Homo sapiens: one gene and its partners. The protein of the gene in region 1 purifies or fractionates together with the protein of each later gene. This does not show direct contact. Each region holds a gene or a part of one and is shown in the gene's direction. Other genes may lie near its edges. The genes, in order: KLK13, LDLRAP1 and TIGAR.

Region 1 (4,388 bases):
CTCATTCTCAAAACACCACCCCTTCCTCCTTCCTCTCCCCCACCCCCAATCCACGTCTTCAAAGCTTTCCGGCTCCTGCTTTTTCCTCTCCACCTAGGTCCCCGTGGACTCCCTCACCCCCTCTGGCCCTGCTCCTAAAAGGCCATTTCTGGAAAATGTTGCTTTCTCAGGTCGCATCTCTGCCCCCATCCAAGTCCGAGGGAGCTGATTTTCTATCCACCCAGCTGATGATTTCCTTCTTGTGTCCGGTGGTTGGCGGGAGCAGGGAGGCAGGATGATGGGATAATTGTGGGTGTCCTTGTGTCTTTCAAAAGAAAAAGGGTTGAGATGAGACTGGGAATTGGAACCTGGATGTGTTGAGAGCTAAACCTGAGATGAGGTTGGAGATGGGACTGGGGTTGAGGAACAGGCTGGAGTACTTGGTATGGTTAGGGATGGATAGGGAGGTGGGAATCTGATAGAACACGGCCATCTGGGGGCTGACTGCCTATTAAGAATTATGCATGGGGTTGGAGAAGAGGTTAGAAAACTGGGTGCAGAATGGGTTGAAGTTAGGGATGGGCATGGAACTCAGCGGGGTAGGGGGAAGGAAATGGGCTTTCCCCTTACCCTTTTTTGGGTCCTGAGGCCTGAAAGTTCACAGTGGGTTCAACTCTGCCTTGGGCGGGGTCAGACCTAGGTCCCAGCACGTCCTGGAAGCTCCGCCCCAAGCAGAGGGCCAAGCCCAGGTCGGGGGTGCCTGGAGACATCCCGCTGAGCCACTGGGGGTGGAGAGGGGGAGGCCAGGGACCAGGAAATGCTGAGTGAGCTGGGGGAGGGAGTTCAGGGGTTAAAAGCCATGGTTCGGGGCTGAAGTTCTAGACAGCTGGCGGCTGACGCTCCTCGTGGGCCCCTCACTCAGGTAGGGTCTGCCTGGGGCGGGGGCGGGGAGCGGAGGAGGGCAGGGAGGGGAGAGAAGAGGGGATAGGAAGGATGGGGAAAGCAGAAGGGCAGCTGAGTCAGGGAGAGGGAGAGTGAAGCTAGAGTCTCAGATCTAGAGAGAAACCTGCAGAGACGGAGAGAGGCGAAGGGCGCGGACAGATAAGAACTTGGGCTAATACCAAGCGTGTGGACAGACCCAGAGGGGTAGAATGGAAGGCAGACTCTGGAGGAAAAGGGCGAGAGTGCACCGACCACCCAGCTCGCCAGAGGGCAGGGGAGGAGGGACGGCTTCCTGGGGTGAGGGGCTGCACGCCGGAGCCCCAGGAGGTTGCACACTGTTCCTCCCACCTCGCCACTGCACCCCCACCAAGGATGGAATTGGAGGCGGGGGGCAGATTCCAGGGTCAGGGCTGTCAAGAGTGAATGAGGCGAGGAGACATTCAGGAGCAGAGAGGTTTCAGACGCGGAGGTTCCGGGCACGCCCTCAACACCCCCTTCACCTTCTCCTCAGGCCCCGCCCGCCCTGCCCTCCCCTCCCGATCCCGGAGCCATGTGGCCCCTGGCCCTAGTGATCGCCTCCCTGACCTTGGCCTTGTCAGGAGGTAAGAATGCGCGGGGGTGGAGGCGCGGCGGCCATTCGGGACAATGGTAGGAGGGGTCAGGCCGGAGGGGGAGGGGGCGTGGGAGCCGCGAGCTCCGCCCCCCGCCCACTCGGGGCCGGGTCCAGTGGGGACAGCTCAGAGCTCTTCCTGCTTGTCCCTGGGTGACCTGGTTTCCCGGCTGAGGTTGGCCCTCCGACCCCAGACCCTTCACCTCCCAAAATACCCTCGCAGCAGCCCCTCCCGCGTTCAAGGCTTCCTGTCCTCTCTGGAAAGCTGAAAGACATGGGTTCGCGTCCTGACGCTGCCGCTTTGAGCCAGTAGCCTAGCAGCTGCTTTGTGCCTAAATTGTTTTCATCTGGAAAATGGGCTTAATCTATAAGTGCTTACCAGAGAAGGTCACTGTGAATATTGAAACGAGGTAATGCGTCGAGCCTTCAGTATGTCGCAGGTAGAAGGGACTTGAAAGTTAGCCACTTAGCCGTTATTACTTTATTAGTAGTATTCCTTTTTTTTTTTTTTTTTTTTTTTGAGATGGAACCTTGCTCTGTCTCCCAGGCTGGAAGGCAGTGGCACGATCTTGGCTTACTGAAACCTCCGCCTCCCGGGTTGAAGCGATTCTCCTGCCTCAGCCTCCCGAGTAGCTGGGATTACAGGCGCCCGCCACCACGCCCAACTAATTTTTGTATTTTCAGCAGAGACGGGGTTTCGCCATGTTGGTTAGGCTGGTCTCGAACTTCTAACTTCAAGTAGCCCGCGTCAGCCTCCCAAAGTGCCAGGATTACAGGCATGAGCCACCGAGCCCGGCCTCTAGTATTCTGTCTTCATACTCAGCCCCTTCCAGAACCTTCTAGATTGTTATTTTAATCCTTGGGTTGACCCCAAACCTATGTGACCTCACCCCAAATTGGTAGTCCTTAAGATCCTTATGGATCTTTCCCATCTTTCCCTGCCGTTGTAGGCAGGTTCTCTGGAAACCCCGTTCATGAATCATTTATTCATTCAACAAACAGCTATTAAACACCGGCCACTGTGCTGGGTGCTGTACAAGCAGAGACACAGTCCCTGCTCTCAGCACCTGGAGTCTAGCGGGGACAGACGCAGATGTTATTCAAACAATTATCCAAATAATTAGTTAATAATTATCTTGACATGAGGTGAAGACTTCAAGGAGCCAAGCCAGGGGCCTAGAGATGTAATGGCGGCTTCCCGACCAGAGGCCTTCCCAAAGGGCTTGACCCTTGAGCCAAGACCTGAAAAAGGAGGGATCTGTGGGTGCCTGGCACCTGGCACCATCCTTGGCCTGAAGGTGGGGTGGCTTTTCTCCTCTGGCGACACTCCCTGGATTCATGCCCGTGCCACTCCTGAGTGCCACACCCTAGGCTAGGAGACCCACACGCTACGCCTTGTGGAGTCCTCAACAACCTGGCGAGGTAGGTGCATTGTAATTACTCCAATTTCATGGCAGAGAAACCTAGGACTCAAAGACAGAAGGCTCCTGCTCCAATGACACCGGCGATGCCTGAGTCAGAATCCTAATCAAGGTTGTTTTCCCTGTCCATATCCTGGACTTGAGGCTCTGAAAACCATTTTTATAACTTTTGACCTAATCATTTGCTTAAAGTTAGCTTTTTTTCTTCTTTTTTCACTCAAACAAAAGCATGTTCAACTTTATATTACTGTCCTGAATAGAGAATAGAATTCTTTGTCATAAATAGAAGGTAAGGAAGGAAATAAATCCTGCACAATGAAAAGAAAATAATATGTTTATTGGGTTGGACCACCTGAAATTGCTGATACTTGACCCTTTTTGACCTTCCTAAAACAACTTTTGCAGATGGTTCAGTGTAATAAATGTTAGGTGGCCTGATGAGGCTTCTGTGTCCTCCTGGCTTTGAAAAGTGAGCTCAGTGAGGATTAGGGAGGTGTTAAAACCATATTAGCACCATCCTGAGACTTTATCCTTGACAAAATCAGGTTTAAAAGAGAACTGGATGCTGGTTCAGCGTCTGAGTGTGCGATTTAACGTTACTTAAATCTCATCTCTCTACCATCTAAAATGATCCTGTGCTCACCGACAACTTCTGTCCCTAACTGCAAACCACTGAGCTAATCCAACTGCTTGCCCTGTAGTTGGGGAAACTAGCTAGGGAGGCAGAGGGACCTCCTGTTGTAGCTAATAATTAATAATAACATTTCCCACTGACTGAGTGCTCTCCATGCCACCTGCTGTGCTGCACGGTTTGAAATGCAGGATCATCTTGAATTCTTCAACTGCGCAATGAGAGATGAACTATTACTTTTTCTACTTGACAGCTGGGGAAACTGAGGCTGGTGATTTGCATAAGGTCACACAGTCACAAAATGGCATGCATGTTCAGGATTGGATTCTCCCTGTCCCACGGACCCCTGCTGTGCTTTCAATGCCAGACACAGTGCCTGGCACACACAGCATTTATTTATTGAGCCCCCATTGTGTGCCAGGCGCTGTGTTAGGTCCTGGGAATATGGTACTGAATAAAGCAGTTAAGGTGCCTGTTGTCAATGGAGCTTACAGTCAAAGTGGAGAGATTTTTAAAAACGAATACATACAAATGTGAAGAGAAATGAATAGCAATCATTGTTCTGATGAAGACCAACTGGAAGAATGTAATGGGGGAGGAGTCGGGACCAGGAGAGTCAACATTAGACCAGGTGGTCAGGGAAGGCCTTTCTGAAGAGGAGACATTTGAGCTGACCTCTCAGAATTAAGAAGGACCCAGACATACAACCTCTAAATTCTGAGGGTCATCCAGTAGAATATTCCATATATGTATATATGAAATATCCTATATCTGTGCTGTCCAATTATCCACTAGCCCCTTCAGG
Region 2 (3,646 bases), on another chromosome or scaffold:
CAGGCTGCTCCCTCCCCCATGACCATTGGCATCTTGGAGTGATCCTTGTGCAAGGTTTTTGCTTCTGGGGCAGCAGGGCTGCTGGGGGGCATGTGGCTGTCTTGGTTTGAGTTTCTGGCCCCTTTTGAGCCATGAGCAGCCTGGTTCCTGGGAACAAGGAATGTGAAAAACTGGGCAAGGTAGCATCCACTCAGGATAATAAGGCAGACCCGAAGGCCAGAGGCAGTCAGGAGGGGTGGGCATCCCGCCTGGGCAGGCCTGAGCAGTCCCTCCACCTAATGCTGGTCCTCGGATCCCTGCAGCCACCCCAGGAAGCAGGGCCCACCCCACTCCCAGTCCCTGCCCAGCCTGGGCTTGCAGCTACCTGCACACATCCACCTCTTGGGTTGTATTCAGTTTAACTTACAGCTTGGGACTTCAGGGCAAAAAGGTAGGAATGTATGCAAGTGAACAATCAGATTTATGCAACTACAGTCTAAGCTTGTGTCTCCAGATTTCCAGCAGGCTTAAATAATGGCGTTTTCATATCCCTGCCACATTGGGTGTCCAGCCCTTGCTTGGGTGGATAGTGATCTGACTTGGGCTGGTAATTAGCCCATATTTTTAGTTCATGGGCAATTCTCAATGGTAACTGGGTCTATTAAACTTGATTCAGATATGACAGCTTAAATTGTAAACAGCTGCGAAGAGTTTCATACTTAATTACCATATTTAAGTTTTGCCATAAAGTGCCTGTACTTCCATCAAAAATGTAAATGTTGGAGACATTCAAATGAGGTTTTATACTTTCGTGAAGTGTAATTGGCACGGATCAGTCAGTTTGTTTAGGAATTTTAAATATTTTTTTAAAAGGAGTTTTAAAGGCAGTGGCCACAGGTCCATTTCTCAATTAAATTGAGTTGTCTGGGGGAGGGCAGGGAGCGGGGCTGAGGCTGGTGAGGCCTGAACTTGTAGACTTGAAAGAGGCTGGTGCTTTCTTCTCTCAGCCAGGGCTTCAGAAGGAAGCTAGATGTTTCCGGCTATAGCTACGAACTCTGGGACTTCCACTCCCAGAAGCTGAGCTGATTAACCCTGGACTGGAATGGCTGAGAGAGGAAGGTGTTGAGATGAATATGGGCTGGGGATAGGTCCTGGGTGGAATGAGGCCTGCACCTCAGGTGAATGTAATTCACCCAGCATTGTTGCCACCTCTGGGAGGCTTTGGCCTGCTCCCGAGGGCAGGGGTGTTCAGATTGATTCTTGCTTTTAGGGTGCACAAAGCTGGGGGAAACACAGGCAGGGGAGCCAGTGACACTTTCACATGCATAGTGCCAGAGGGAGGTGGGTGGGGCTCGAGGAGTCTGGGACTGGTGACAGGAGAGGTGGTGACATCTGAGTTGGGTTTGGAGGGGTGAGGGAGAGTTCCCCTGGGGTGAAGGGCCGAGGTGTGGCCCTTCCTTACAGGTGGGTTATAGCACTGACCGGTTTTGGTCCCCGGGCCTTCATTGACATCTTGCTCCTATCAGGAAATTGACAAGCCTTCTACTCTCTTTGTGGGATCCAGTTATGGTCCCAACCGGAACCTAACTTTCACCTCTCTGGCTGTGGCTCATTTGGGGCAATGGCTGGGCCCTTCCAATTCTGGCTTTTCTGTTCTCCAATTCCAAGGGCTAAGTCCACAGGTAATTAGGGAGGGTTTCTTGGAGGAAGTAAGCCTCACAGTTCATTGAATTCAGGGAAGCCCAAAGGGGAAGGAAAAGACCTGGAGAAGAACAGCCTTTGCAGGCAGGGGCCCTAGAGTGAGAGTGAGAACTTTGGTGGGGCCAGAGATAGTAAAGATGGGGACTCTACTGCCTCTGCGAGGCTATGGCCTTATGACACCCCAGGCTGCTTTGGAGACCTGGGAAGGGCCAGGACCCTGCTCTGCCCAGCAGGCATTCCAGAGCCTGGGATGGAGCTGCAGAAGCTGCAGGGAGGGAGCCAGGGGGCCTGGCCTGGAGGCCCCAGCCCTCCAGTGCAGACTTGCTCTGCCCTGGCTGACACTGCACCCCTCCCCATCCCCACTTCCTGTTTTCAGGCACAGGCTGTTACCCTCACCGTAGCCCAGGCCTTCAAAGTCGCCTTTGAGTTTTGGCAGGTGTCCAAGGAAGGTGAGACTTTGCATCTACATTGTGGGTGTGGTGGGAGGTGGGGAGACACATAAAGGCCCTGGGGTCAGACCTGGACCGACTTCCTGCCTCATCACCCACCTGGCTTGTGACTGTGAGCAGGTCCCTTCACCGCTCAGAGTCTCGGTTTTCCCATCTGAAAAATGGGAACAGCCGTCTCCCTCCCCAAAGGTGCTTGTGAGGATTAACTGACATCCGAAAGGTTTCTTTCCTCCCGGCTGGAAACCTGAAACTGCCCCTTGAGGTTGGCCACCGCTAATCACCCCTGCCCGGTGATTGCTGGGGACAGAGTGCTGGGGTCTGAGGCTCCAACATGTTGTGCCTTGGTCCTGCAGAGAAAGAGAAGAGGGACAAAGCCAGCCAAGAGGGAGGGGACGTCCTGGGGGCCCGCCAAGACTGCACCCCCTCCTTGAAGAGCTGTGAGTCCTGACGGGGAAGGGGGATTGGCCATGCGGTGTTGGGGTTGCGCTTCACCCAGGGGGGTCCCACTCCTGCCTGGGCTGGGAGAGCCTCTTGGTTTTTCACTTGTGTTTTGTTAAATAAATAATACACGTTCATTACAGATCAATTAGAAAATGTAGATAAGGGGAAGAAATAACTCATTTTAGTACATTTTCTTCTAGATATGTCCCTATGCAAATATATAAATATGCGTCTATCTTTCTATATACTTAACATAGTATTGTGTGGTTGCTTAAGAAAACTTAACTATTGTGAATACAAAAGTTTCAGTCTAAGCCATTAGTCAGGTTCTCACTCTGTGGGCAGCTGCGCATCTGCTGTGGGGAGGTGCCAGGGCCGGGCTCTGCTGGGAGGCCTGGGCAAGGCCACATCAGAGGGGAGGGTCAGGGCCAGGACAGCCCAGGGAGGGGGCCAGGAAGGAAGAGGCTGATCTCCCACTGACAACCTGACCGGATCCCTCACAGTGGTCGCCACTGGGAACCTGCTGGACTTAGAGGAGACAGCTAAGGCCCCGCTGTCCACGGTCAGCGCCAACACCACCAACATGGACGAGGTGCCGCGGCCACAAGCCTTGAGTGGCAGCAGTGTTGTCTGGGTGAGTGGTTGTGTGGCCAGCAGATCGGTGATCCTCAGCCTGACCTCTGGGTGAGCCTGGGGCTGCTCCAGGGACCAGGCCCTGGGACCCGTGACTTGTGGGCCTCTGGGAGGACCAGACCCAGCCCGGTAGTGCCCAGGCGCAGGATAGGGGATGAACAATGTCCCTTTTGAACCTGAGGCTGCATCCCCAACAGGCTTGGCTCCCAGCACAGCTGTCTCCTCACAATGCTTGGCCTCTTGGCCTGAGCGTCCACGGCTCTGCCCACCACAAGACCAGCCAAAGGCGCCCTTGTTCTTGGTGTGGCAGAGCTCGCTCCTACCACCCCTCCCCCTCAGCCGCCTGAATGAGGACCCAGAGACTTGGGCAGTCACCAGCTTGGTCCCTGACTCCCTCAGGGACTCAGGGCAAGCCCCCTGACCTCTCTGTCTCAGCTTTTTCA
Region 3 (3,646 bases), on another chromosome or scaffold:
TTACAGGAATATACTCTCAAATTATGTTGTAGTTTGTGTGCATATTAAGTTAGGTGACAGCTCCCTAGGCATGGAGGCAGTTTTAGGCCAGGTTTAAATTAAGGGCTACAAGCCACTGTCTAGCGAGGATGTTACTTGTTTTGTTTTGTTTTTGAGGGCGCAATCTCGGCTCACTGCAGCCTCCGCCTCCTGGGTTCAAGCGATTCTTCTGCCTCAGCCTCCCGAGTCGCTGGGACTACAGGCACACACCACCACGCCCAGCTAATTTTTGTATTTTTGGTAGAGACGGGGTTTCACCATATTGGCCAGGCTGGTCTCAAACTCCTGACCTCATGATCCGCCTGCTTCGGCCTCCCAAAGTGCTGGGATTACAGGCATGAGCCACCGCGCCCAGCCGAGGATGTTACTTATATTGAAATAACAGATATTTTATTCTTGGTCTCAGCAAGATTTTGAGGCTGAGACAGGAAGTGAATCCAATACATGGTAACTATTTTCTAGATTAAAAATGACAGGTTCCCCATGTTTGCCCTGAATGCTTCTGCTTTATCCATCTGAATGGTAGAGGCTAATATCCTCTTTCATGCCCATTTTATAAGATTCTGAATGAATTTTGGAGTGTAGGAAATCTTTTTTTTTGAGATGAGGTCTTGCTTTTGTCGCCCAGGCTGGAGTGCAATGGCATGATCTTGGCTCACTGCAACCTCCACCTCCTGGGTTCAAGTCATTCTCCTGCCTCAGCCTCCCGAATAGCTGGGATTACAGGTGCCTGCCACCACGCCTGGCTAATTTTTGTATTTTTAGTAGACACAGGATTCTACCATGTTGGCCAGGATGGTCTCGGACTCCTGACCTCAGGTGATCTGCCCTCCTTGGCCTCCCAAAGTGCTGGGATTACAGGCATGAGCCACTGCATGTGGCCTAGGTAATCTTTTATTAATATTAACAACAATGATAATGGCAAATCAGTGCTGTTGGTTTTTTACCAAGGTATAAATAGTTCCATGTATTTTTTTTTTTTTTTGGAGACAGAGTCTTGCTCTGTTGCCCAGGCTGAAGTGCAGTGGCATGATCTTGGCTCACTGCAACCTCCACCTCCCAGGTTCAAGCGATTCTTCTGCCTCAGCCTCCCGAGTAGCTGGGACTACAGGCACTCACCACCATGCCTGGCTGATTTTTGTATTTTTATCAGAGACGGAGTTTCACCTTGTTGGCCAGGCTGGTCCCGAACTCCTGACCTCGTGATCTGCCCACCTCGGCCTCCCAAAGTGCTGGGATTACAGGCGTGAGCCACCGTGCCTGGCCAGTTCTGTGTAATTTTATTTCTTTATCATACGTTTATTTTTTAAGCTAATACATCTACATATTTAGAAATCAAAACAATTCTCCGTAGTCTTCCTATTCTTCCCCCAACCAATAGGTGGCCACATTTATTAGTTTCATGTTTATCCTTCCATTGTTTCTTTGTGCAGATCCAGATGTTTATTTCCCTCCTTTCTAAAAGGGTAGCTTTCTTTTTATATTACTCTATACCCTGCTTTTTCTACTTAATCATATATCTTGGTGAGCATTCCATATCTTTACATATAATCTCTCTCTTTAAAGGACACATTTACATAGGATTCCATTAGGTAGATATGTCACTGTTTATTTGTTAATATAAATAATGGTTATTCTGGCCATAGTTAAGGAATGAGTTATGGACATTTGGGTTGTTTATAATCTGTTGCTATTAGAAATAATACTGTAGCTAATGATCTTTTTTTTTTTTTTTTTTTTTTTTTTGTGAGACAGGGTCTTGCTCTCTCACCCATACTGGAGTGCAGTGGTGTGATTGCAGCTCACTGCAACCTCTGCCTCCCGGGTTTAAACAATTCTTGTGCCTCAGTCTCCCGAGTAGCTGGGATTACAGACGCCCGCCACCACGCATGGCTAAATTTTGTATTTTTAGTAGAGATGGGGTTTCATCATCTTGGCCATGCTGGGCTTGAACTCCTGACATCGTGATCTACCCACCTCGGACTCCCAATGTGCTGGAATTACGGGCATGAGCCACCACGTCTGGCCACAAATAATCTTTTAAATATGAGTGAATTCAGTTATTCCCAGTAATTGGGTTATTGGATAAAAGGGTAAACAGATTTGTCATTTTGATAGGTATTTCCAGATGACCCTCCCTAGGTAAAAGCACATTCACTGAAGTTCTGTCATTTCCCAGCATTTTCTCCAGGCCCTGGGCATGTTGAGGGTATGCAATCCCTGCTTGTGCCTTTAAGGAACTGGAGCCAGGATAGACACAGAGCTAAAAAGTCAATTAGCACACAGATGAAAACTTATGTTGGTAGTGCCAGGGGACCATGGGAGTATAGAGTGTGGGTATTAAATAGAGTAGGTAGATGGGGAATGGTACTGGGGAGGGAGACTACCTAAAAGAACCAGTCTTGTGTTGGGTCTTAAAGAACATTCATATTGGCCAAATCCAGCAATCTGTATCTTGGCAGAGGTTGGCATACAGCTGTTTTTGTAAACAAGCGGCAAGATTCCAGGATGAGGCCTGAGTTTGTGATTCTGACTTCCAGGTCTGGTAGATTTTTTTTTCTAGATCTGAGTAAATCAGTCCTATGTGACATTTTAATTATTATAAACTAGTGCTTCACTTAAAAACAATGGAGCGATCATTTTCCATCGAAATCAAGGAAATGCAAATTAAAATTAAAGTGAGATGAATTGTTCAGGTACCAGATTGGTACAAATTGAAGAAACCTTCCATCACTGAATCTTGTTGAGGGTGGTACACCACACTACAGGGTGGTGTAACCTGCTATGACACTGGCATTACCTAATAAAGCTGGTATTTGCATACCTTATGGCCCAGCAATTCTAGTGGTAGGTTGGGTCAGCAAACATTTAATTAGTGCTCAAAGAAATTTCAGCTGAATTCTCTTTGATTCTACTTTTCATGTATTTGAAAGTTGCATTATTGTTAACCTATCCTGCTGTCTGTCCAGTCTTGCCCATGCACTTCCCGCCCTTTTCCCCCTCCAGCCTCAGTAACCCCAGTTATTTTCTGACAAAGTTTCCAGTTCTTTTACCCTTCCGGTTGGTTCAGATTGCTTTGATTTGTTTTGGTATTTTAGTTTTTAAAAGTGTAGTACTCAAACCTCAGTTCAGTGTGCAGTTAGTTGGTCTGCGAGATAGCTGTCAGTACTACAAAAAATAACTGCTGAAGACCTAGGAACTAAGAGAAGGCAGGGGGTTCTGAAGGTTTGTGCACGTCTCTCCCATTCCATTCAGATTCTCTTTCACTTGCTCATTCAGTCCAGCAATGAATAGACTGACTCTCACGTTTTTGTTCCTGCTGCCAGTAAGAGTAGTTTTGATCAATATATTTCTTTTAACAAAATTATTTGGCTGAAATGTTATTTGCATTATATTTTTTAGTAGGATTTTCCACCTGCAATTCACTTAAGATTGGTTCCTGATCTACACGTTTTAGTTTGGAGTAGTTTGAAATTCTTAGCTCTTCATTAAAGAAGACAATTGCAAATATTAGTTTAGAATAAATTGTTTTTACAGGTTGGATTATGAAGTGTGTTACAAGTTTCACATGATATTTTTAGAGTATCACCACACTTGATTGCTCATT

Evidence for each region.
Region 2: the proteins of KLK13 (region 1) and LDLRAP1 purify together in Homo sapiens (affinity purification with mass spectrometry; one large-scale study listed by BioGRID and IntAct). This does not show direct contact.
Region 3: the proteins of KLK13 (region 1) and TIGAR purify together in Homo sapiens (affinity purification with mass spectrometry; one large-scale study listed by BioGRID and IntAct). This does not show direct contact.

What each region holds. Positions count from the first base shown.
Region 1 is NC_000019.10:51,062,151-51,066,538, reverse strand, and holds the start of KLK13 (kallikrein-13 isoform 1 precursor), read left to right. Parts: upstream 1-1,446; 5' UTR 1,447-1,471; coding exon 1,472-1,523; intron 1,524-1,619; exon of another isoform or gene 1,620-1,941; intron 1,942-2,677; exon of another isoform or gene 2,678-2,953; intron 2,954-4,388.
Region 2 is NC_000001.11:25,560,588-25,564,233, forward strand, and holds part of LDLRAP1 (low density lipoprotein receptor adapter protein 1), read left to right. Parts: intron 1-2,056; coding exon 2,057-2,129; intron 2,130-2,482; coding exon 2,483-2,566; intron 2,567-3,073; coding exon 3,074-3,204; intron 3,205-3,646. UniProt on the Homo sapiens protein: Adapter protein (clathrin-associated sorting protein (CLASP)) required for efficient endocytosis of the LDL receptor (LDLR) in polarized cells such as hepatocytes and lymphocytes, but not in non-polarized cells (fibroblasts).
Region 3 is NC_000012.12:4,327,570-4,331,215, forward strand, and holds part of TIGAR (fructose-2,6-bisphosphatase TIGAR), read left to right. Parts: intron 1-3,646.